4 linked regions of the Homo sapiens genome follow. The protein of the gene in region 2 purifies or fractionates together with the protein of the main gene of each other region. This does not show direct contact. Each region holds a gene or a part of one and is shown on either strand. Other genes may lie near its edges.

What was found.
Region 1: the proteins of FAF2 (region 2) and KIDINS220 purify together in Homo sapiens (affinity purification with mass spectrometry; 4 studies listed by BioGRID and IntAct, with this or other methods). This does not show direct contact.
Region 3: the proteins of FAF2 (region 2) and DERL2 purify together in Homo sapiens (affinity purification with mass spectrometry; 7 studies listed by BioGRID and IntAct, with this or other methods). This does not show direct contact.
Region 4: the proteins of FAF2 (region 2) and RRM2 purify together in Homo sapiens (affinity purification with mass spectrometry; 4 studies listed by BioGRID and IntAct, with this or other methods). This does not show direct contact.

Annotation. Positions count from the first base shown.
Region 1 is NC_000002.12:8,729,590-8,736,633, reverse strand, and holds part of KIDINS220 (kinase D-interacting substrate of 220 kDa), read left to right. Parts: intron 1-1,880; coding exon 1,881-1,979; intron 1,980-2,953; coding exon 2,954-3,190; intron 3,191-4,651; coding exon 4,652-5,914; 3' UTR 5,915-7,044. UniProt on the Homo sapiens protein: Promotes a prolonged MAP-kinase signaling by neurotrophins through activation of a Rap1-dependent mechanism. Provides a docking site for the CRKL-C3G complex, resulting in Rap1-dependent sustained ERK activation.
Region 2 is NC_000005.10:176,507,385-176,510,574, reverse strand, and holds the end of FAF2 (FAS-associated factor 2), read right to left. Parts: 3' UTR 501-3,190; downstream 1-500. UniProt on the Homo sapiens protein: Plays an important role in endoplasmic reticulum-associated degradation (ERAD) that mediates ubiquitin-dependent degradation of misfolded endoplasmic reticulum proteins.
Region 3 is NC_000017.11:5,483,169-5,490,812, forward strand, and holds the start of DERL2 (derlin-2), read right to left. Parts: upstream 2,994-7,644; coding exon 2,901-2,993; coding exon of another isoform or gene 2,695-2,900; intron 2,049-2,694; coding exon 1,983-2,048; intron 1-1,982. Other genes in the region: protein MIS12 homolog, read left to right, coding at 5,695-6,312.
Region 4 is NC_000002.12:10,117,794-10,125,738, reverse strand, and holds the start of RRM2 (ribonucleoside-diphosphate reductase subunit M2), read right to left. Parts: upstream 2,941-7,945; coding exon 2,842-2,940; intron 2,757-2,841; coding exon 2,682-2,756; intron 2,353-2,681; coding exon 2,209-2,352; intron 2,004-2,208; coding exon 1,887-2,003; intron 1,023-1,886; coding exon 889-1,022; intron 1-888. UniProt on the Homo sapiens protein: Provides the precursors necessary for DNA synthesis. Catalyzes the biosynthesis of deoxyribonucleotides from the corresponding ribonucleotides. Inhibits Wnt signaling.

The sequences.
Region 1 (7,044 bases), on a different chromosome or scaffold from region 2:
TAAATGACGTAATACAAGTAAAGAATGCCTTGATGAGAAAGAGAAAGCTCTGAGGGATTCCCATTGGGATAAACAGAACTCATCTTTCCAGTGTGGAACCGAAAACCTTTGTGTTACATTTTTTTCTAATTGTAATATTTGTTAGTGTGATTTAGTGATTATCAAAGTAAGCCACACTTGCCTCATTTTCTCCAAATTCTCATTTTCATGTCATGTAGGACTTAGGATCATGTCACATTTGATGAAACCACATAGGTTTGGGTTTGCAAGGTTAATGCATTTGCATAGTTTTTTTTTCTTCTAAGATCCTATTGCAATTCTAGCAGCTATCAGGAAGTTGGCTAGAGATGCCTGAGATTTGGGGGAAGGTTTTAACGAAGTCTTTATAGTAGGTATTTCACTAAGGTATACTTTTTATATCAGAGTACTGTGTAATAAAGTAGAACGTTAATAACCAGCCTCTAATATTTATATACTTGAAAGAATGACATCTGAGAGAAGTTTTTTAAAGAATTATGAGCATATGTAGACACCATTTTACTCATCTCAGCCAATTTTAGAAAGGTTTCAGATAATGTCAGTTTCCTTACAGAGCTGGCTCGTGCTAGTCCCTGTTTGCATGAGTCAAACACCGGCTTTTCCATGGATAAGCCCCACTTTCTCCTTCAGGCAGCTGGTTGGTGTCAGGAAAGAGCGGGGTCTCCCACACGAGTCCTTTGTGATGATTTTGTTCCCATCGGGGTAGTGGTTTTCTCCCCACTCAGCTCTTTGCTCCTAGACCCCGGCTTTCTGAAGCCCCTCAGAGCCGCTGGCCTCCTCCGTGCTTAGGGCTCCGCGGCATTGTTGCAGCAGGACCTCTGTCACAGACTTGCTGTGTATACTGTTTTCTTCAGGATTAACTTGGAAACTGAACATTCTATTGATTATAAACATAGCTATTTCATAAATTTGCCCCAGTTAATAAAGTCAGGTTTTACATTTTATAAAAGCAGTAAGCTACCTATTATTAATAAAGAAAATGCTGTTGTTTCATTTAGGGGAAACTAGAATTACAGGGAACCAAAAGTAATAACTTCCTTTTTTATGATTTTTTTTTTCTTTGAGATGGAGTCCTGCTATGTCACCCAGGCTGGAGTGCAGTGGCGTGGCCATGGCTCACTGCAACCTCCCGCCTCCTGGGTGCAAGCGATCCTCCTGCCTCAGCCTCCCAAGTAGCTGGGACTACAGGCATGTGCCACCACTCCCAGCTAATTTTTGTAGTTTTAATAGAGATGGAATTTCACCATGTTGGCCAGGCTGGTCTCGAACTCCTGACTTTAGGTGATCCACCCACCTCAGCCTCCCAAAGTTCTGGGATTACATGCGTGAGCCACCGCGCCGGGCCTTGTGAATTTAATAGACTGGAAAATTAGTGGGTGGGCATTCTTCATATCTGTATCTAATATAACGGATAAACAAGTTTGCCAGGCCTACTTCATTTAGAACGTTGTTAGTGACCAACACGCTTATGAGAACAGATGTCTTTGTCCCCTCCCAGCAGCTTGTGTTCATGTTCATATTTTCTAAGATTAGAAAACAAAAACTAACAGTTTTGTTGTTGCTCATGACAGCATAGGTAGTTTTGGAAATAGGAGGGTTAGTTCTTCGGTTGGTCCCAGAAAATGCCTAAGACATTTGGGAAAATATGAAGTGGCTGATGTTGTTCAAATTCAGCTTGTTTATTGTATTATTATATGGGATGATAACCTTTTTTTTGGTCAGCCTTTCTGGTCTCTAGAGACTTATTTAAAACTAAATATAAGCATACTTGGCAATCACTAGTAATTCAGAATATTTCACATTCTGTCTTTATACCCATAATTGTTTTAATTTTTACTCAGGCAAACATAAATGGCCGTGTGTTAGCTCAGTGTAACATTGATGAGCTGAAGAAAGAGATGAATATGAATTTTGGAGACTGGCACCTTTTCAGAAGCACAGTAAGATATTTGTAACATTGTGATGTTTACAACATTATTTTATGATAACATTCAAAATTATTTATAACATTGTAGAAAACCAGTATCAATAAGTACTGGCCTAAACTGGTATTTTTTTCATATTTTTTTAAATTTAAAAACTGCTTCTTACACTTATGTGCAATCCTGTGTTGTGGAAAATACACACAGCAGCACTTGGCAGCCTTTGCCTTTTTGGGCATTTCACTCAGAGATTTGGGGAAGAGGCCGCCTGCCGGTTCTTCATGCTTTCACCTGCCTTAACTCTCATCAGGCTCCTCAAAGCCTTCGAGGCCTTGACCTTCAGCATTCATCCTTATAGGGCTTGCATTGCCCAGGTTTAGCAAGAATCCTGTTAAGTCAGTTTACATGTGTGATCACCCTCAGTATTTGATCAAACGCCTCACTAACCCCCCCACCCCCAGGTGATGTCGGCTCACCCTGGCCATCGGCGTACCAAGAGTCCCCCACTCCTGCTGCCTCCCCTTAGTAATGTTCCATCCACGACCCCCACCCTGCCCCTTGGTGGTAGATCCCCACTCATTCGTGCTTATTCCGAGTTGGACTCCCTTCTGTAGTGAGACTGCTTACCCCTGTTGCCATAGTTCTGAATAAAATCTGGACCTACCGCCCTACTCCTGGCCAGCTCTGGTTTTGACACAAGCCAGCTGCATTTTTCTTTGTCCTCAAGTTAAGTTTTAAACAGAAGTAATAATTTAATGGACAAATTGCAGTGTAGTATATGTATGGTGGTTTCTACCATTGCTTCCTTTAGTATTAATGAACATGAAAGATAAGCTGATGTATAAAACAAATTCACTAGAAATTCACTTACCAGAAGTATGCTTTCTCATTGCTGTTGCAATAGCTTTATAATGTTTGGTATTTCTAAATATTTCTAAAGCTTCTAAAATATGATTTGTTAGTGTAAATATTTATGTTTTTCTTCTGTTAAGGTACTAGAAATGAGAAACGCAGAAAGCCACGTGGTCCCTGAAGACCCACGTTTCCTCAGTGAGAGCAGCAGTGGCCCAGCCCCGCACGGTGAGCCTGCTCGCCGCGCTTCCCACAACGAGCTGCCTCACACCGAGCTCTCCAGCCAGACGCCCTACACACTCAACTTCAGCTTCGAAGAGCTGAACACGCTTGGCCTGGATGAAGGTGCCCCTCGTCACAGTAATCTAAGTTGGCAGGTATTTATTGAATGGCATTTTTCATATTATTGAAGAATAAGCACACCGTTCAGTTCACTGAGATTATATGGGCATTTAGACAGTCATTCAGAAAATGCTTACTGAATACCTAAGTGAACAGGAGACAAGATGGAGGGCTCCCTGTACTCAAGGAGCTGCATCCATGTGGAGAGGGGCAGTCAGTGAAACAAACAAAAAAGTAGCTCATGTAGACATTGATGAGAGCTGAGATATCCATCAGGGTCACAGCATGCAGAGTCAATAGGGATTAGGCCACTTGAGCTAGGGTGGTCAGCAAATTCAGCCTTTCTCAGGCGATCTTCCTGTTGCATTCAGTAACTGTTGGTTGAAGTACATCTTCATTGGAACACTGGCCACATAGTGTCCCTTTGAGCACCATCCTTTGGTTTTCCAGGACGCCTGCACACCCTTCACGGATATTGGTTTCTTCTGGTCTGGCATTAGATGTAGGCGCGTTCTTCCTTTGGAGATTCTTAGAAGAAGGAGGCCAGGTGAGGGGTAGGGGTAGGGGCAGGGACAGAGCAAAGTGAGAGATGCAGGAGGAGTAGCGGGAGTGAGGAGAGCGCAGGAGGAAAAGCAGAGCAGGGTGTGGAGAACAACGGGGGAGGAGGCACAGCGGGCGGCAGCGAGTAACACTGAGTGGGCAGGGCAGGGCAGCGGTGAGGAGGAGCAGCGCCTTGGGGAAGGAAGAAAATGTCCTATTTCCTTGAGAAGGTCCCCAACAAATTCACTTTGCTCCTTCTTTTTTGTTTTAGCCTTTGCTCTTGACCCTTCTTAAACTTTCTTGATTCTTCTCCTTCTTTTTCCTCATCTGTACTTTTTGCTCCTTGTTTCTTAGCTATTCTGGGATCTGAAGCAAATTCTAATTCTAAAACTTAATATTGGAAATAAACTTGTAAAACTACTTTATTTTTCTGTTTACTAAGGCCCAACTATTGGCCTCATTGCATTTTATATTTTATCAATGAAGTTGACTTTGGCCTTAAATAAAAGCTAAACGTTTGAAGTTATAAAAACAAGTGCTGTGGCCGAGCATGTGGGACATGCCCATAGTCCCAGCTGCTCAGGAGGCTGAGGCGGGAGGATTGCTTGAGTCCAGTAGTTTGAATCTAGCCTGGGCAACACAGCAAGATCCTGTCTCTTAAAAATGAAATAAAAACCAGAAACAAGTGCTAAGATTATTTGTTAATACAGTGTTTAATCATACTTTTAAATATTAACAATAAACTGATTTTATTAAAATTTATAGAAAGCTTTCTAGTAACAGCATTATAAGGTCACAGCTTTTGTTAATCTGTGTTATGTAGAATTCTTTTAAAAGAATTTGATGTTTTGATGACTTTTTAAATGGTTAGTGTACATATATATTTCCTAAGCTGATGTTTATGCCTTTTTTCTTCTTATTTGAATTTTTAAATTATTTTTTTTCTGTCTTCACAGTCACAAACTCGCAGAACCCCAAGTCTTTCGAGTCTCAATTCCCAGGATTCCAGTATTGAAATTTCAAAGCTTACTGATAAGGTGCAGGCCGAGTATAGAGATGCCTATAGAGAATACATTGCTCAGATGTCCCAGTTAGAAGGGGGCCCCGGGTCTACAACCATTAGTGGCAGATCTTCTCCACATAGCACATATTACATGGGTCAGAGTTCATCAGGGGGCTCTATTCATTCAAACCTAGAGCAAGAAAAGGGGAAGGATAGTGAACCAAAGCCCGATGATGGGAGGAAGTCCTTTCTAATGAAGAGGGGAGATGTTATCGATTATTCATCATCAGGGGTTTCCACCAACGATGCTTCCCCCCTGGATCCTATCACTGAAGAAGATGAAAAATCAGATCAGTCAGGCAGTAAGCTTCTCCCAGGCAAGAAATCTTCCGAAAGGTCAAGCCTCTTCCAGACAGATTTGAAGCTTAAGGGAAGTGGGCTGCGCTATCAAAAACTCCCAAGTGACGAGGATGAATCTGGCACAGAAGAATCAGATAACACTCCACTGCTCAAAGATGACAAAGACAGAAAAGCCGAAGGGAAAGTAGAGAGAGTGCCGAAGTCTCCAGAACACAGTGCTGAGCCGATCAGAACCTTCATTAAAGCCAAAGAGTATTTATCGGATGCGCTCCTTGACAAAAAGGATTCATCGGATTCAGGAGTGAGATCCAGTGAAAGTTCTCCCAATCACTCTCTGCACAATGAAGTGGCGGATGACTCCCAGCTTGAAAAGGCAAATCTCATAGAGCTGGAAGATGACAGTCACAGCGGAAAGCGGGGAATCCCACATAGCCTGAGTGGCCTGCAAGATCCAATTATAGCTCGGATGTCCATTTGTTCAGAAGACAAGAAAAGCCCTTCCGAATGCAGCTTGATAGCCAGCAGCCCTGAAGAAAACTGGCCTGCATGCCAGAAAGCCTACAACCTGAACCGAACTCCCAGCACCGTGACTCTGAACAACAATAGTGCTCCAGCCAACAGAGCCAATCAAAATTTCGATGAGATGGAGGGAATTAGGGAGACTTCTCAAGTCATTTTGAGGCCTAGTTCCAGTCCCAACCCAACCACTATTCAGAATGAGAATCTAAAAAGCATGACACATAAGCGAAGCCAACGTTCAAGTTACACAAGGCTCTCCAAAGATCCTCCGGAGCTCCATGCAGCAGCCTCTTCTGAGAGCACAGGCTTTGGAGAAGAAAGAGAAAGCATTCTTTGAGAAAAACAAGCAAAGGAGAAGAGTGTTACTGTACCTTTATGACAGAATTGTCCTGGATTTTGACTCCATCCACGCCCATCACCTTTCTACATTTTGCTGACAGATAACTAACCGATGATGAGGCCGAGGTAAAAGAGACATCTGCAGTGTGACAGAAGGGAGCATGAGAAGCATGGCTCACCAGCCAGCCTCTGTGGTCTTTGTAATTAGAAGCTTCAGAACTCACTAATACTACTGTACCTTTCATTGGCGCATTACCCCATAAAACTTTTTGAGACGAGGTGAGATCTGAGTATAAAGATAGGTCAGAAGTATTTTAAAGGGCTTAATGTGCCAAAAAGAAAAAAAGCTAGAGACCCTTTTTGCAAACATTTGGTGACCACACATTTGAGGGAAGACGTGGCGTTAGGTGAAGCAGAAGCAAACCCTGCTCTTAGGGGCTCACCTAGGTGAGTGCACAGCCTGTGACGCTACAGGGAGAGGCTGAGTAAACCGAGATCCAGCGTTCTGTATGGCAGGGGTATTGCTTATCACAGAGGTTCTGAAGAGTAGGAAGTACATAATGAAGAGGGCTTTAAAAATTGCCAACAAAGTGAGTCACCAGGGCTGGCAGTAGTGTGACGGGGCTGTCCTGAGCTGTTAGGAGAGTAGATGCGGGGAGGGCTGGTGACCTCCGTGGGTTTATATGTCGGAAACTCTTCTCTCCAAATCCCAGGCCTGGCTTCCAGCACCATCCAGCTGTGCCCAAGAAGCCACCCTGGTCTGTTCTCCAACTCTTTTAAATGGTGCCCAACTTTTCTAAGTGAGCTTAGCAATGAGAAGAAAAAAAAACATGAATTCTTTTTCTGGAAAATCAGGGAGACATGGGTAATAATAGGTACTAATAAATATTTATAGATGAGTGAATGAGGAAATAATTACATCAAAAAGGTCAGTGACAATTGATAAATGACAAGGAAATATTTAATTAGGTAAAACTAAATCATTGCTCTCTATACTAGGATAGACTTTATCTACTTCATCTGTTCCTAAGTCAGCATGTTAGTTCTGGGGAAGGATCATAAGAAAGGAAATACTTTTTAAAAAAAAATTTGGAAACATGTAACAAAGCAAGGGTAAAATATATATAT
Region 2 (3,190 bases):
TTGCAAGGACACAAGTTGGTTCCAACAAAAGTGACAAATTCCTTAAGAAAATGTTATTCCAAGAAAATATTCTTACAAAATACACTCCCATAGAAGGGGAACAAACACTTAATGACATCTACATATCAGGAGCCTCATATACATTTACTTGATTGAATCTATAAACCTATCCTGAGGTGGACGGCATTATCTTCATTTATAGCTGGGGAAATTCAAGTTCAGGGAAGCTAGAGAATTTGCCCGAGGTTGCAAACCTGACAAACTAGAGAGCCCAAATTTGAACCCAGGCCTGTCTGCTCTCTCTCTCCATCATACTAAGTTGCTATTTTTCCACAGGGATACAACAGAGAAGACCTAACTCCATCCTTCTCTTTGACTCTCCCTTCCTTCTTGGCAATGCCATGCCATGCTGTTCCCTCCCGGTGTTTTTCAACCTCTCCTTCACACATAGAAAATTATCTACCACATCGGTCCCACACAGAAAGATCCACAGCCTGTTATGAAGTTTTTGCTATAAAACATTTAATGTTAACCTACAATACAATGTAAACTTTTATGAAAAAAATTTAAAGTACACTAGATTTCTTCAGTAAATTATCACATGACTATTCAGGCGCAGTACAAGTTGGGGCACTGCATCCTTTGTGGATGGATTTCCGTTGCTGTGTTCCTCACAAGTCCTAAAAAAACCAGTTGTAGAGCGGAGCTCCTTGTTCAAGCACCGGATAATGATGCCCCTGATTTTGCATTCTGGGGGTTATCGCTCCTTCTCAGTCATTTTCTGAAACTCTTTGCTTGGCCTTGGCACCATTAGCAATTTTCACAACTGCTCAATTGAAGGTTCTAGGTTCTTTTTAGCTTAGTTTTTAAGAGACAAGTGTTATCCTCTGGCCATCTCTTATTCAAATATCATGGTGGAGGCAAGCAAGGAGAAAGAAGTATTTGCTAGAGGAAATTCTGCAGAAGTGGAAGAAAAGACCAGAAGGGCTCCACTGAGGGTACAAATATTCAACTGACTCCAATCGAGTGTCTTTGCTTGGTCACTTCCCATGGTTATTCAGCTCAATCTACAACTTCAGTCGTGGGAGTGCAGAACAAAACTTGAAACAAGTGCTTTTAGTTGATGATTTGCCATTTGGAAACAACAGCTGAAATATCCCAGAGGTGATGTGGAAACAAGAGCAAATGCTTGCAGATCACTGGCTTCTCAGTGTCTTCTCCCTCGCAGGTCTCATCAAAATCCCAAAAGTCCTTAGGAGTAACACAGATTGTACTGGCATTAAGTGACAAAATGTGCAGCCTGTATTTGACTGAGGAGGAAAGGAAATGGCACCTAGGCAGCAGCGCTAGGGTCAGCAAGGAGACCGGCCTAGGGTCTCAGTAAAGCAGAACTGTTTCAAATGGGACTAGACCGGGGCATGTGCTTCCGGTGAATCCTCTTGAAACCTAAAGTAAATGGGAAGGCCGCCCTAACAGTTGTACTGACATAAAGGGAGACCCTTCTTAATATTCTGGCAGCTGACTTCCTTCACTGAACAACTATTATCAAAAGGCGAGAGGCATAAAGTGCACACTGTAGAATAAGAAGAGACTGAATTATGATGGAAAAAAAAAATCGTAACTTCCCCAAAGAGGTGTGGACAGTGTACCTAGCCTCACAAAGGTCCTTAATACCCTCCTGTGTGCTGCCAGGGAACAGCTGTGAATTCCAGATGGGGAGGAAGGCTCTGACTTAAGTGGAAAAATTCCTCTGCATGGTTGTCAGCAGGAAGGTTTCACGTAAGGTTATCCTTATGTGGAGAACATGGGTTATCCTGCTGTTCACGCCAGATACATTTTATTGACAGCAGTCAGATGGTGATTCCACTCATCTGGCCTTGGGACAGCAGAAAACGAAGTGGAAGAACAATAGCTGGCCAGGGACAGAATTAAATTTTCCTAGAGATGGTGTTCTAGACAGCTATGCCAAGGCCACTGGGAATTTCTCAGGCTCTCCAAGTTAATTTCTGTGGGGTGCCTTACTCTGCCATGTGGGATTTACCCCAACAACTGAGGACTGCAGTGGATAGTAACCATATAATTGCTACCAAAAACAGTGGTCCTTAGGTTTTAGTTAAGCAAGAGAGAAAGCCTTGAGACTACAACTCCAGCAAGTTAGGCTTTATGTTGATCTGAACCCCCCGCCCTCACAGCATTCTAGGAACTACAGTAACGTCAGTCGGTTGCAGTGGTACAACGAGCCTGCACCAGTCTAGCTACAGAACACTTTGGAATACTTGTCAGAGCGCACTGGCATCTGTTAATACATGGCCTGACCCATGTACCCATTACCATAAACTCAACCACAGACGAGACATCCAGAGGTTAAAAAAAACCCTATTACTTCAACATAGCAATAGAGAGAAAGGATAAAAGCTGCCTCCAGAAGGTGGCTGCATCAGAAATGAAAATGTGCCTTCCAATAGATTACACAGGCTGGGAGTTCTGTCTTGGCTCCCTTCAAGGCCTCTGGTTCTATCCTTAAAACAATAATACACTTCCACTGAGACAGGCAGGGCACTCTCCTGTGGTTCTGCTGGCTCCACCACAGGCCCTGCTAGTCCTTTGGAAAGGCACCAGGCTTGGCAATTCAGGAAAGCCCAGGGCTGGGGGGAGCAGCATGCACATGTCAGAAGAGGAATGAAGAGCTGCTATCCTTTGGTTCAGACCCCATAACCACCACCTGGTACAGACTCCAAGGAAAAGCTGCAGTTGTGTGTAAAGGTGAGTTCCACCACATACATAGGTGTATCTTTACATATACAGCCTTTGTGGGGCCACAAACCCAGATTTCCTCCCACTGCTCCAAGTGGGGTGCACAGGTGGTAAGAAAGGACAGCAAGAGTTGGACCAAAAAGAATGACCTCTCTGGGAACGTGAGAGGGACAATGGCAGAAATAAGCACAAACCAGCCCGGGGCACTTTTATTACACTATTGTGGGCTAAGGAGCCCAGGGCATAAACTCATGGGTTTAAAGAATTGGCTCTTTATCAAATAAAGGAAAAAAATATATATATATACCTATGTCAGCCTCATTCCTTTGGTCATTACAAAACAGAAATAAAAGTTATTGAAAACTTGTGGGCAGTTCAAGGAACATCTCTGCTTCTCTGCTCTGTGCTTTCTCTTCCCTCTCTTCCCCAGAGGCAG
Region 3 (7,644 bases), on a different chromosome or scaffold from region 2:
ACTAGGTTAATCGGCAGAACAGAAAACAGTGCTTTCATATGTAGTATCATCATATAATAAATAGAACTGACATATCAGAGAAAAACTTCAGGGTCTAATATAAATTGCTGAGAAATGTTTACATTAGGCAGTCAGAAACATCTAAAAGAAAGGAAAATTCTTTTTTTTTAAACTAAAACTTAAAAAAAAAAAAAAAGAGATAGGTTCTCACTATGTTGTCCAGGCTGACTCAAACTCCTGGCCTCAGGGGATCATCCACCTCAGCCTCCCAAAGTGCTGGGATTACAGGCGTGAGCCACTGCACCCTGCCAAACACTTATTTTCTTGTTGGAAACCCTGATAGACCCTTCCCTACCCAACATCTCCACACCCACAGTAACCACTCTCAATTGTAGAGTGCTTAACGTTTTAAAATGTCTACTATCTCTTGTGATCCACAGACAAGCAAGCTACCCCCAATTCACAGATAGGAGACTAAAAGTTGACTGACTAGCTGAATACTAGTTATTCAGCTAAAAGTTGAACTTTTAAATGTCCTGACCAAGGACCCGCAGGAGTAGATGGAAACTCTGATGGCAAATCTAGAACTCCTAACTCCAAATGCACAGTGTCATCAAGAGTTTAACCCCAGGCAGAGTAAAGCCAAGTAGGAAGCAAGACTTACTTGGATGGAACTACAGCGCCATGTGAGTATTGTGCGAACACAGTGACAAGAGATGACAGGACTGCTTTACAGACCACTAAATTCTTGAGAATTGTTAACTATTAAAGTTGAAACAATTCAGTTCTACATATTAATTATCCAGATTTTAGAGTCCTCATCCTAGTGAGGAGACAAGCATACGCATAACTGCAAAGTAAAAGTGAGAGATGTTCTAAAACAAAGGAGGATGAGTACATAAAGGTTACACAAAAGCTGCGTTTTGAAAGGCAAGCTAGAGTTCAATGGATATAAAGTGAATGAAACACATTTGAGACAGACAGAACAGCATGTGTAGAGGCACAGTTATTGGCTTTTGGGTCTCTCCCCTACTCCAACTATGGTAAGATCATCCTGGAACAGAAAAATCCATCTCTCTTTTAGCATTTTATTTTGAGACAGGGTTTCGCTCTTGTCTCCCAGGCTGGAGTGCAATGGCACAATCTCGGCTCACTGCAACCTCCGCCTCCCGGGTTCAAGTGATTCTCCTGCCTCAGCCTCGCCAGTAGCTAGGATTACAGGCATGTGCCATCACGCCTGGCTAATTTTTGTATTTTTAGTAAGAGACAGGGCTTTACCATGTTGGCCAGGCTGGTCTTGAACTCCTGACCTCAGGTGATCTGCCTGCCTCAGCCTCCCAAAGTGCTGGGATTACAGGCGTGAGCCACTGTGCCCAGCCTCTTTTGGCATTTTAATCACTGGAAAGGACCATCTCCCATTGTAATCTAATAAACCACCATATAGCTTTAGATGTTTGGAATTTGGTTAGTATGATCTGATCCCTGGAAGACAGATCACAATTTAAAAGCACTAACAGAATTGAGTTTCTGGACCATGGTGATAACACCAAGGTGGTGGGTGTGCCTAGGTGCTGAATGGACAAAATAAGGCCATCCCTGTGAGACAACCCCTAAGCAGCTAGCTAGTCAGCCTCCTCTCATAGGACAACGTTAAGTCTAAACCAGTGATTTCCAAATACAGGAACTGGACACATCAAAACGATGCAGGGAACTTTAAAAATAAAACACAGATTTTAATTCCTACCCTTGCAAATTCTGATTTGGTACTTGTTGAGGAGCTTGAGAATCTCTTCAAAGTTCCCTAAGGGATTCTCAAGTCCAACCAGGCTGCAGAATCACTGCTTTATATCCTGACAAGGCAACTTATAATCAAAGGTCCCCACTGGGTTCTTTTTTAGGATAGTGTATAACAGGATTTGCTACTAAACAGTAAGAAAAAGAAGAAACTGAAGCATTAATCACTATTGTGATGAACCACTTACTTGAAAGTGTTTAAAGATTAATTCAGGATTGAAGTACAACTGAAAAGGTGTGATCAATTCCAACTGCTGAAATAGAAAAAGAGCTTCTTAAAGCAAATCAAGAAACAAAATTTCATCATTTACAACAAAGAATTAGTAGGTCTAGCAATTTCCAACTCTCGGTCACTTAGACGTGATTTCCTTTAAGCCTTTCTTCTTAGGCCAGAGGAAGAGGTTGGTAAAGAATTCTCTAGGATTGGTAGAATTCTTTGTATCCTCAATACCTAACACAAAAAAGTCTGTTTTATGTTGCAATAGTTGAGGCTGACATGAAGAAATGAGGCAGACAGGTGGTGATATTTTAGACACAGGACAAATAAAAACAGCTGCTATGAATCTACCCACCACATGGGCACCACCTGAAACAGCTGTATGAAACAACAAAACTCACTTGAAATAACGGAGACTGGAGACCCTGCCACCGTTAGGGCTGGGTACCTCCAGCTAGCCCCTTATTTAGATCCAGAGACCCTTTTTATTATAAGCCATTCCCCTCTCGACAGTTTCCAGCTTGCTTTCCCCATTCCTGTTTCTTCACTAAACGGACCTTCCTCTCACTAGTCACCATGGTACCACCTGGCCATTGGCAGAGCTCTCGGACACATTTCTTGGGTGGGAGGCTCCCGCAACCCTAACCCGCTATAGGTCCGGCGCTCATCTCTTAGAAACTGACCTGACCCCCCATGAAGCAGCACTCCCTTCTCGCGTCACTGGATAAGCATTCTTGGCGCCAACTCGAACCCCAGAGTAATCCCTGTACGCCTCCACCCATCCCCGGGACCAGCCCCTCTGGGCCTCCCCGAGGCCCAAACCCCAGTTTCCTGAAGACCCAGTCATATCCAGCCCAGATAATGAGAAGGTGGCACTGCAGCTGCTCACCACGGCGGCGGTGGTGAGGACGCAGGCAGTGGTGTAGGCGCGGCTGACCGGTGGGATCTGCAGGTACTCCAGCCGCAAGCTCTGGTACGCCATCTTCCCCACCGTCGCCTGCCCCACCCCCCACCCACCCCATTTCCCCTTCCGCCAGCAGGCCCCGGCGGCGGGGCGGGCCCAAAGGCCCCCCGCCCACTTTAGTTTTCCCGCGACTGCCCAATCAACGCCAAGCAACCGCAATCCGTAGAGACCTAAGGAACGCACATCCGCCAATCACGAGTTGCGTCGCCACCGCCCCCCCCCAGCGCCCCATCTCCCCACCCTCTCTTCTCCACCAGCCAACGTCCGGGAAAAACGAGTAAGTACAGGTTCCTTCTGCCAATCCCCGCCGGCCACAGCTAACTTTCCCGCCCGGCCCCTTTCTGTCATAATTGAGGTGTCCACAACCAGCCAATCAGGAACGCGAGAGTATCCCGCGTTTGCTTTCGCTCGCCGAGGCGCGTATCAGTCGGAATTTTGGGGAGCCAACCGCGCCGTCTGTCCCTGGCAAGCCAGCGGCGGTTTAAAGGAGGTGGCGGGAAGCCTGTGTGTGCTTCAAATCGTCACCCTCATGGTCGCTCCGGTAAGTGCTGCGGGGCAGCATTTTCTCTGAGGAGGAGCGGGGACGGGCGAGACTGGCATAAGCGTCTTCGCGAGGGAGCAAGGCGGCCTGTGGGTCGGCCTCACCCCGGCCTCCGACCTGAAGATCCCAGCATGCAGCGCGGGCGCGGGGCCCGACGGAAGCCGGGAGCCGGCCGGAAGCAGTTCCTGCGCTCTGGCTTCTGGGTCCTGTCCTGCGCGATCGCGGGGTCTTAGACAGCTCAACTCGCCGAGATGACCTGGGCACCTCTGCGTTGAATCGGCAAATACTGATCAAGCCGCATTTATTCTGCTCTCAGGAACTCTAAGTCTAGCAGAGAAGATGAGGCGGTAGAAGTTCATCAGTCAGTGCCCGAAGAGAGGTCCTAATGGGAATTCGAAGAAAGGAGTTAATCAAGGAAGTGTATTTTTTTGTTGTTGTTTGAGATGGCGCCCACCTGTAATCCCAGCTACTTGGGAGGCTGAGCTAAGAGGATCACTTGAACTTAGGAGGCAGAGGTTGTAGCGAGCCGAGATCATACCACTGTACTCCAGCCTGGGCGAAAGAGTGACACTTTGTCTCAAACAACAACAACAACAAGAAAATTAGCCAGGCATGGTGGCCTGCACCTGTTGTCCCGGCTACTTGGGAGACTGAGGTGGGAGGATTGCTTGGGCGCGGGAGGTTGAGGCTGCAGTGATCTGTGATCGTGCCACTGCATTCCAGCCTGGGCGACAGAGCGACAACATGTCTCAAAAGAAAAAAAGAAAAACAGAAAGAAATCCTACCTTACATATACAGCCAAACAGTTATAACCACTCCATATTTAACCATTACAAACGTAAATTTTTATTTTATTTTATTTTTTGAGACAGAGTCTCGCTCTGTTGCCCAGGCTGGGGTGCAGTGGCACAATCTCGGCTCACCGCAACCTTCGCCTCTCGGGTTCCAGTGATTCTCCTGCCTCAGCCTCCCGAGTAGCTGGGATTGCAAGTATCCACCATCACGCCTGGGTAATTTTTGTATTTCTAGGAGAGATAGGGTTTCGCCATGTTGGCCAGGCTGGTCTCGAACTCCTGACCTCAGGTGATTCGTCCATCCGGCCTCCTAAAGTGCTGAGATTACAGGCATGAGCTATCGTGCTCAGCCTACAAACATAAATTCTTAAGATTGGCTGCATCTTATCTTCCCATAAGATTTGACTGTACTGCTTATTGCAAATTATTTCATAAAGTGCGTCCTAAATTCACCTGATAATTGAAGTAGCAGTTTGTTTTAGCTAATTGCCTTTATCTGAAGGAATAATAAAATTTCTCTTATTTCTATGACAAGCAATATCATTTCATCTCAGAAAAAGATGCCTAGGTTGAATTCCCACAATGACAAGGAGATAGGGGTTTTATTTTCCTAGATGTTTATATTTGAGAGGAATTACTCGCAGACCCTTGAAAAAACATGTCAGGGTTATAAAGCTGACAAGGGACTTACTCATCTTCTAATTGGGTTTTTTTCAGATGGCTTGGCTGGAGGACAAGCAAATTGAGGACATTGGCAACGGAGTGATCAAAATGATAGATCATGAGGCCTAAAATGAATAAGGAAAGAAGAGAAGTGGCAGAGGCTGAGAACAGAAAGAGAGGGTGGAGGGGCTGTAAATCTTGAAGATTAGGGTATAATATGAGTATATGGGTAAGAATTGGAAGAATTGTGTAGGAGGCAGTAGTCAAAAAGTAGAAGCAGTTTGGAAGAGTAGTTACAAATATCAAGAGCCAGGTGGCTAAAAGGTGGAGCTATAGGTCATTGAAGCTCAAGAAACTGAGTCTCTAGGGCATTGGTTAAGTCATCTGTCTAGACTTCAAAGTTGTCTAGGATGATAATTCAGAAGACTGATCTGTGCCAAAGTCACAGGTAAGGGAAGTGAACAACGAGGAGGGGAAAAGGGAGGGTATAGGCTGATGGAAGGAGCCTCAGAGAGGCAAAGAGTTTATATCCTGTTGTGGGAGTGGCATCAGGTATAAAGGAACACAAACTCCTTATTTTTTATTGATTTGCTTCTTTGTTTGCTATCTGTAATGTGATTGGTTACTTCCTGCAGAAGATTTTTTTTTTCCAAATGAATTATTTCCTTTTTACATTTGCAGGTTTTTCACGACTGAAAACAACATAGCAAAATAAGCCAAGATGTCTGTGGATCCAATGACCTACGAGGCCCAGTTCTTTGGCTTCACGCCACAAACGTGCATGCTTCGGATCTACATTGCATTTCAAGACTACCTATTTGAAGTGATGCAGGCCGTTGAACAGGTTATTCTGAAGAAGCTGGATGGCATCCCAGACTGTGACATTAGCCCAGTGCAGATTCGCAAATGCACAGAGAAGTTTCTTTGCTTCATGAAAGGACATTTTGATAACCTTTTTAGCAAAATGGAGCAACTGTTTTTGCAGCTGATTTTACGTATTCCCTCAAACATCTTGCTTCCTGAAGATAAATGTAAGGAGACACCTTATAGTGAGGAAGATTTTCAGCATCTCCAGAAAGAAATTGAACAGTTACAGGAGAAGTACAAGACTGAATTATGTACTAAGCAGGCCCTTCTTGCAGAATTAGAAGAGCAAAAAATTGTTCAGGCCAAACTCAAACAGACGTTGACTTTCTTTGATGAGCTTCATAATGTTGGCAGAGATCATGGGACTAGTGATTTTAGGGAGAGTTTAGTATCCCTGGTTCAGAACTCCAGAAAACTACAGAACATTAGAGACAATGTGGAAAAGGAATCGAAACGACTGAAAATATCTTAATTGCTCAGTAGTCAAAAGGAGGAGCCTGTCAAAAAGTAGAATCATAAGGACTGTTCAAACCATAAGGACTGTTCAAATCATACCAGTGACTGTTCAAACCAACCATACTTTTTATTAGATTTGCTTTGTCAACTCTTTCTTGTATTCTGTGTTTTCCTCTTTTTTGGTCCACTTTGCTGAGGTATGAAGTGTACTACTTTGAACTAGGCTGAAGCATCTGAGTCTTCTAATAAGTGGGAAGGGATCCAACAAAGAAGCCATGACCAGTTAAAGATATTTGCAGAGTTACACCTTGGTCATAAGTCCTTTGTGACCTTGATTATTTTGGCTTACTCTTTGGATGAGACCAGACAAGAAAAGGATTAAACGGGTGGCTCCTTTAATATTATTATTATTGTTTTTGAGACAAGGTCCCTTTCTGTCACCCAGGTTAGAGTAGATTTCAGTGGCACAATCTTGGCTCACTGCAACCTCTGTGTCCTGGGCTCAAGTGATCCTCCTGCCTCAGCCTCCCAAGTAGCTAGGACCACAGGTGCGTGTCACCATGCTTGGCTAATTTTTTTGCAGAAACGAGGCCTCACTATATTGTCCAGGCTGAGTGGCTCTTTTATTAACCAGTCATTACACTGCGGAACAGCCAACATAGAGTACTTGCTCTCGTCCTGTGAATTTTCTTTCATGAGGGAGTCAATATGTAGTGGAAAGAAGCATGTAGCAAAAAAGACAACCTTGATCTTTAATAAAAAAGAAGTTGGTTTATTTCCAAAATAAATCCCCTGACAAAAAACCTGGTGATGTTAAGCAATTGACTGTCTTAGAGTCCAGCAGAAGACCTTAGACAAAAAAAGCAGAACCCACTGGAGTAGAAAAGGAAGCATGTAGCATATACTCAGTAGTGAAATTTAATTTTACTGACTGTTAGGTATCTATGCCAATTTGTTTTCATACTTCAGTTGGTTTTGGAATCTGCCTTATACCTAATATTTATTTATTCACACTCATAAGCATCAAATATTTAATGCCCTCAGTGGGAAATTTGTGTTTAAACTCAATGGAATCTAATATTTCTTTATGTCGTTAGTCCCTGTAAAATGTTAGGTCACCCAAGGAAAGGGGAGAAATAGCAATGGTTGTTCCTAAGGTATTGCTTGCCCTCCATGTCTTCCTAAAGAGCAGAACTTGGAGTTTCTCCTTTATGTAGAGAAGAAGTAACTTAGGGTGTATTTGCAATGAAATATTCATAGATATTGAAAGCTTGTGTTTACATGAAATATGTTTATTATCAAGAAGTCCTTTTTCCAATTCTGTACATTAAATATATGTGTTTTAAAG
Region 4 (7,945 bases), on a different chromosome or scaffold from region 2:
ACTTCCACTCCATACAAGGTTCTGGTCCCCAAAGCTGACCTTTGTTTTTTTTGCTTGGTTTTGCTTTTTGAGACGGAGTCTTGCTCTGTCACCCAGGCTGGAGCGCAAGCTCCGCCTCCCGGGTTCACGCCATTCTCCTGTCTCAGCCTCCCAAGCAGCTGGGACTACAGGCGCCCGCCACCACTTTTTTTATTTTTAGTAGAGACGGGGTTTCACCGTGTTAGCCAGGATGGTCTCGATCTCCTGACCTCATTGTCCGCCCGCTTCAGCCTCCCAAAGTGCTGGGATTACAGGCGAGAACCACCGCGCGCCACCCTAAAGCTGACCTTTGTATCTAGACTACTCCAGCAGCCCATTTCTAATCCCCCCACCTCCAATCTCCAAAACAAAACAGACCTTAAGCTACCTTTATTCAGCCAAACTCCTGCATGCCTAAATCAGTCTCAGGGTTCACTGCTGCCTCTGCCTTATGTAACTCCTACTAAGTCTTATTTGCCTATACTATACTGCAGGCTTCTTAGGAGGCAAGTCCTCCCCGTCCATCCCACTGCAGCCCCACATTCTAGCTTCTCAACAACTTTACCAAATGAGCAAAGATGGTCAGACATAGGTTTTAGTTTGTCTTACCCAACATCTAGGAATTTTTTCAAAAGAAGGTTTTACATTGGTAGACATCCAACTTTAAAAGGAGTACCTTCACAACTCTAAGTGAATAATAAAGTGCATTTAGGCCCCTTGCTAAGAGCAGACATGACCACGGGTGCTGGGAATGCCTATGACTGTCTTAGTCATTCTGGAGTCATTTTTATCCCTAGGTGAACTAAAAATGTGTAATAAATCAACAATTAGTGAGTCCTAAAAATCTTGGCATACCACTTGAATACTCACCTTTCTTTGGGATCTTTTATGTAAGTGTCAATAAGAAGACTATACATTTCAGAATGTATGTTTTCCATGGCAATTTGGAAGCCATAGAAACAGCGGGCTTCTGTAATCTGAACTTCTTGGCTAAATCGCTCCACCTAGTGGCAAAACACATCAAAGTTAAGCTTGAGAAAAAACCAACAGCAGCAACTGTCAACGGATACTGGCAGCATCGCACTCTTTGTACCATTATAAGGTTTATTTCTATATATATTTCATCCAATTTGTCACAATTCTTTGATATTTTATGTCATATGCTCAACTTACATATCAGGAAATAGATACATATAAAATAGGATTTGTGAGCGCTCGATTTCCTAATTAATTTATGTCAAGAAAGATCCATTCGCAATAAGAGATACAACCAAATTATTATTAAAACAGCAAAGCCACAAAAAGGAGGGAGCAGAGCCGGGCGTGGTGGCTCACGCCTGTAATCCCAACACTTTGGGAGGCCAAGGTGGGTGGATCACCTGAGGTCAGCAGTTCGAGACCAGCCTGGCCAACATGGTAAAACCCTGTCTCTACTAAAAATACAGATATTAGCTAGGCATGGTGGCGCACGTCTGTAATCCCAGGTACTCATGAGGCTGAGGTTGGGGAATCGCTTGAACCCAGGAGGCGGAGGTTGCAGTGAGCCAAGATCACACCACTGCACTCCAGCCTGGGCCAGAGTGAGACTCTGTCTCAAAAAAAAAAAAAAAAAGAGGGGGCAGATGTGGTGGCCACAAAGAGTCATCACATTGCTACCACTTAATATTGTCTCAGCTTCTCTAGAGTCGGGAAAATACCATAAGAAAGAACTGCAAAGTGTTACAAAACAGGAAATGCCATGTAATATAAAACCCAGCTTACACACACAGATGCACTCAGCATGGAAAAACATACAAGACGAGGAAAGCGAACTAGTTCGACCTCAGATCGTCAACGTCAAATGAATGAAAGATGTTTTGGAAACTCACCAAGTTTTCATTTACTATGCCATCGCTTGCTGCAAAGAAAGCCAGAACATGGGATATAAAATATCTCTCCTCGGGTTTCAGGGATTCCCAGTGCTGAATGTCCTTGGAGAGGTCCACCTGAGGTTCGGAAGTCACAATTTTAGCATAAAAGGAAGAGAGTAAAGCCTACAGGACTCACACTGAGCACTCAAACTTTAAGTATGCTGGCACCACTTACTATGCCCCACAGTTAGCCCCCCTTGCCAACGGGAACCTCCAAGTGCATTTATGTCTGAGGCGTGACGGTCACCCCTGCAGGGGTCTTCTGGGGTCCTCCGATTACCTCCTCGGCGGTCCAAAAGGAAGCCTCTGCCTTCTTATACATCTGCCAGATATCATGGTACTCGATGGGGAAGATGACAAAGCGGCGGGGGTTTTCTCTCAGCAGCGGCTCATCCTCCACGCCGGGGGCAGCTGCTTTAGTTTTCTGTTGGGGGAGAAAATAAAACATTTAAGTACCGGGCGAACCATATGAAACTAACGTTTTTCTGGACCAAGTCCTTTCCATTGGCGGCAATTTCACGGGGCCCGATGTGAAAACGTGGCTGTCCCGTCGCACTCCGTGGGTCGCAGCAGAGGAGCGCACGCCCGAACCGGGAAATGGGCCGAGGGGCGCGGGAGGCAGCCCTGGGGAGGGGCCGCCTAGGCGGGAAAGGAGCCGGGGCGGGAGTGTGAACAGCTGAGGAAACAATGCGGCTTTGGCGCCAAGACGCCCAAGGCCGTCCCTGGCCCCTCTGCCCCACGCCCGCCACTCACCGGCTCCGTGGGCTCCTGGAAGATCCTCCTCGCGGTCTTGCTGGCCAGGACGCGGGTCCCGCTCAGGGCCGGCGGCTGCGGGGAGACGCGTGTGAGTGAGGAGCGGCTTCGCTTTCCCTGCCTCCCTCCCCTGCCCGCAGCGCCCTCCCCGCGGGCTCACCGTGTTCTCCTTGTCGACCAAGCTGAGCCCCTTCAGCGGCGAGAGCTGCAGCTGCTGCGGGTCCGTGATGGGCGCGAGCGGGACACGGAGGGAGAGCATAGTGGAGGCGCAGCGAAGCAGAGCGAGCAGCCAGGACAGGACGGCTGGGACAGGGTGCACGGGCGACCCCTCACTCCAGCAGCCTTTAAATCTCCCGCGCCGCGCGCTCCCGGCCCTTCCCATTGGCTTTGGTGCCCCGGCCCTTCCCATTGGCTGTGCCATGCCTCCGACCCTTCCCATTGGCTGCGCCTTGCCCCTACCCAGGCTGGCCGCGGGGCCGCGCGCGATTTTCAAGCGCAGCGCGGGAGCCTCCGCCGGCGCCTTCCGGAGACCCCCGGGGACACCCCCGTGGACGCCCCCCGGGACCTCCCGGTTCCCCCCCCGGCCCGTCCGCTGGCTGGGTCGGGGGCGCCGCCGCCCAGGCCCCCACAGGTCCCGCGGGACCAGGGCCGCAGCCCCTGAGGGTCTCGGCGGCCTTGGCGCGCGCGGGCCCCGGTTCGCCCGGGAACCGTTTAGGATTGCGTGAGGAGCAGCGATTGGAGCCCGCGGGCGCGAGAGGATCCCCGGGCCGCGGCCCCGCCTCCCGAAAGCACCTCCTCCCAGCCGGGCCGCCGCCGGGCAGGGGGCTTAGCCAACGAGGTTGGTGCAAAGGCCTGGAAAACGCTCCTGGGTGCGGGGGAGGCGTTGCTGCGACCCTTTCGATCCGTGTCCCTGCGGTGGGGGTGCAAGGGCCCCGAGGCCTGACATTTTGGCGGGGTGGTCGGCGAGGACCCTACAGCCTAAAAGTTAGGGCCGCTGAGCCCCGTGGCTCGTTTTGCTGGGACAAGCGACCAGGCTTCTTACAGATTCGGTGTCCCCGTGAGTAAAATGGGACTCGTAACCGCGTGGACTGTTAATGCGGTGAGGAGAGCGTTCGTTGAGATGACTCATGTAAAATGTGCAGTCCTTTGTAAACCTTCAAACTACGGGACATGGCGAGAAGGCCCTTGGTGCAGTTTTCCACAGAAATCCTGTCTCCTGTCAGACCCCTGACCCCTATTGTCACCCTTGCCTTAAGAATTGCAAACTGTGGCTGGGCGCGGTGGCTCACGCCTGTAATCCCAGCACTTTGGGAGGCCAAGGCAGGAGGATTGTTTGAGGCCAGGAGCTGGAGACCATCCTGGGCAACATAGTGAGACCCCGCCTCTGCCATTAAAAAGAGAAGAAAAAAAGTTGTTTTAATTGCAAACTGAGCAAAAATTCCTGGGAGAAAGTTCACAGAATGATTTTAGGACTAGGAATTAATGTACTACTCATTGGGCGTCAAATATGCTGAAGAGGAGTTTGAAAACTCCACTGGTGTAGAGACTGGAACTTAGCAATAGCTTTCATTTAATTTTCTATGTGGCTTTCTGATTTGCCAGGCCCTGCAACGGGCAAAATGCCAAAAATAAAGGAAGAGAAAGAAACTTTAAGATCCAAGAAAGAAATCATTAACCTGAGAAAGCTTCAACAGCTGCGCTCAGGGCTGTTATTGAGAGAGACCCGGGACTTTTTTTTTCACAAAGCCTTTTCTAGATAAGATACTTTAAAGAGGGTGGGGTGGGACAGGTACCCTCCCCACCTAGGTCTGTTTCTCTCATTTCTTAAAAGTACTACGGACTTGTAAATCATAGTATTCTCGTGTTGCAGGAATAAGTGCCCATCACATTCCTTACACAAAGCCACAACTAAAACTTTGGTGTACCATGATTTGTTTAAAGCAACTCGCCATTCATCGCCATTTTCACCCCAAACACACTAAAGCATCCATCTCCAGGAAACTGGTATTTTTATTGATTACTTTATGGCTGATAAAGCTATTATCTAACAAAATTATAATTTATTGGTGTCATCTCATACTCAACTCAGATTTCAATTTCCCATAATCAGCGTCTAAAACCCTCGTTTCGGTTGCCCTAGGGCGCCACGTGCTTTTTTGCTCCTGTTAAACTCACTGTAACTGAAGTAGTCAGAGGTGGCTTCATTGATAGTTTAGTTCCTGGCCACGTAATTAACATAGCCATTGTAGAAGACGCCGAAAGATGCGTACGTGTTGTTAAAGGCCGGGTGAAGTCGCCATCCTCCCCTCCCGCGCTAAACCTGAGTCATCTCGGCGTGGCCCTCCTGCCCCCAGGTCCGGCAACTTTGCCCCGCTGCGGAGGAGGTGGCGGCGCCCAGGGCCACGCGGCAATGCGGGCGGTTCCGCCTCCGGGGAGGTCGGGCGGTGCAGCCACTCCCGGGAGAGCGCCCGCCGCAGGCTGCTGCTAGCCCCGGGATTCACTCCTTTTTCCCTCGGTGCTCGTTTTTTTGGTTTTATTTAAGTAAACAGACGAGGGTCTCGCTTGTTTGCCCAGGCTGGTCTCAAGCGATCCTCCCTCCGCCTCCCTAAGCGTCGGGATTCCTGGCGGAAGCCACTTGAGCGCGCGTTTTGACATCTGCATCTACTCCACCATTGGTCTGCACGGGAGGCCCCGCCCCGCCCCCCGGAAGGCTCCTCTGCATTCCCAGCCTCAGGTGCCCCGCCCCGTTTCCGCTGCGCGCTCGCCGGTTCACACGCCCCAGCCTGGGCAAGTTTGCAGGTCTCAGGCCAAGGTTAGCGCGACTTCCAAAAGGCTGTTCACCATTAGGGTGGAGAAACCGCGGCTCGGGGAGCTCAGCACTCACTGTGTACCAGACGCCGTGCCGAAGGTGGTCATAATAATAATTAAGGCTGCAGCACCCACAGCCTCTGGGCGCCTGGATCATGTGAGGCTGTTTGAGTTTTTTGTTTTTTGTTTTGAGACAGGGTCTTGCTCTGTTGCCCAGTCTGGTGGCTCCATGATAGCTCACTGCAGCCTCAACTATCCGAGCTCAAGCGATCCTCCCACCTCAGCCTCCCGAGTAGCTGGGACTCAAGGCAGGCACCACTACGCCAGGCTAATTTTTTAATTTTTTGTAGAGATGGGTTCTCGGTATGTTACCCGGGCTGGTCTTGAACCCCTGGGCTCAAGCCATCCACCCGCCTTGGCCTCCCAAAATGCTCAGATTACAGGCGTGAGCCACCGCCCCACCGGGGTTGGTATTTTTAACCCTTTTCATAGGTGATGAAATGAAGGCCTGGGAGGCAAGGAAACTGCCCAAGGTCGCACAGCACAACTGCACAGCAGAACGTTTTTAGCCTAGCTTTTTACTATGAATGTTTTCAACATACAGAATAATGGAAGGATTCCTAGTGTTCACCCACCAGCTAGGATTCAACAGCTGTTTCCATTTTGCCATATTTGCTTCATGGCAAATGTGGCAGACACCCCCTCTGTGGGTGTATGAGGCTTATGCTTTTTTATGGATCATTTGAAAGTGAGTGATAGATATCATAACCCATCACCCCTAAACGTTTCAGCTCCTAAAAATTAGGACACTCTGTTAATATCACCACAATACCACATTTATCCCTAGGAAAACTAACAATAATTCTCTAATATAACCTAATATCCAGTCCATATTCCTGTTTTTCCAATTGTTTCAAAAATGTCTCATAGTTTTTTGGATTTATTTTTTTGTGCAGTATCTAATTAATCACATGCATTGCGTTTATTATGTTGCTTTAGACTCTTAGTAAAGCTCCTCCACTTCTTTTCCCCACGACATTGACTTTGAAGTACAGGCCAGTTTTCTTGTAGAATGTCCCACATTCTACATTTGCCTAATTGTTTATTCACAGTGTCAATGAACTTGTTTTCCTGACCCCTGTACTCTACACTGGAAGTTAGGTCAAAAGGCTTTATTAGGCCCTGCTTGGAGGTTCACGCCTGTAATCCCAGCACTTTGGGAGGGTGAGGCAGGCAGATCACCTGAGGTCAGGAGTTTGAGAGCAGCCTGGTCAATATAGGGAAACCCCATCTCTACTAAAAATACAAAAATTAGCCAGACGTGGCAGCAGGCGCCTGTAATTCCCGCTACTTGGGTTCCCGCTACTTGGGAGGCTGAGGCAGGAGAATCATTTGAACCCAGGAGGCAGAGGTTTCAGTGAGCCGAGATCACACCATTGCACTCCAACCTGGGCAACAAGAATGAAATTCCGTCTCAAAAAAAAAAAAAAAAGTCCGGCGGGGGATCGTTATTAGCCTAAGGCTAAAAGTTATTGGCAAGAAGACTTCATACGTGATAATATAGCTAGGATTTGAACCCAGGTCTGACTAACTCCAGAATTCCAGACTCTCAAAAACTTTGTTTTAATATGAACTGCCAATTACGTATATTTATATATATATATATATAGATGAGGTCTCACGATATTGCCCAGGCTGGGCTCAAACTCCTGGGCTCAAGCTATCCTTCTACCTCGGCCTCCCAAAGTGCTGGGATGACAGGCATGAGCCCTTGCGCCCAGCCCAACATTCTTAATGTAGCACAGCACAGCAGCACCACAACCACAAGTCTCAGGAGCAGCCCAGTTCAACTTTGTAGTTAGTTTATGTGTCACTCACTCAGAAGTCAGCAGGAAATGGTTAAGCAGGAAGCAGGGTGGACAACCAGATGGAGCTGTTTGATGCTGATGTGAGTGTCACCACATCATTTGTGTCTAGAACATTCGCATTGGAGAGCTTCAGCCACTGAGAGGCCATTTTCAGGAGATGGTGAGGATGAGGCAGCCAGCACAGTGCAGAGCCTTTGGGATTAATGATTTTCTTCGTGCTCAGATAACCTCTAAAATGATGTTGAACAGTTATGTGCCACTTTACACACATTTAAAATAGACATTTAGCCAGGCACAGTGGCACACCCTTATACTCCCAGCTACTCCAGAGGCTGAGGAAGGAGAATTGCTTGAGACCAGGTATTTGAAACCAGCCTGGGCAACACAGCAAGACCCCTGTCTCTAAAACTAAAATAAATAAGAATTAAACTGACATTTAAACTTTTAGTCATAAATAGTTACAGGAGATGTAATCTCCATCATGTTGCAAATATTAGCACTTTAAAATGACAACTGGCCGGCATGGTGGCTCACACCTGTAATCCTAGCACTTTGGGAGGCTGAGGTGGGAGGATGGCTTGAGCCCAG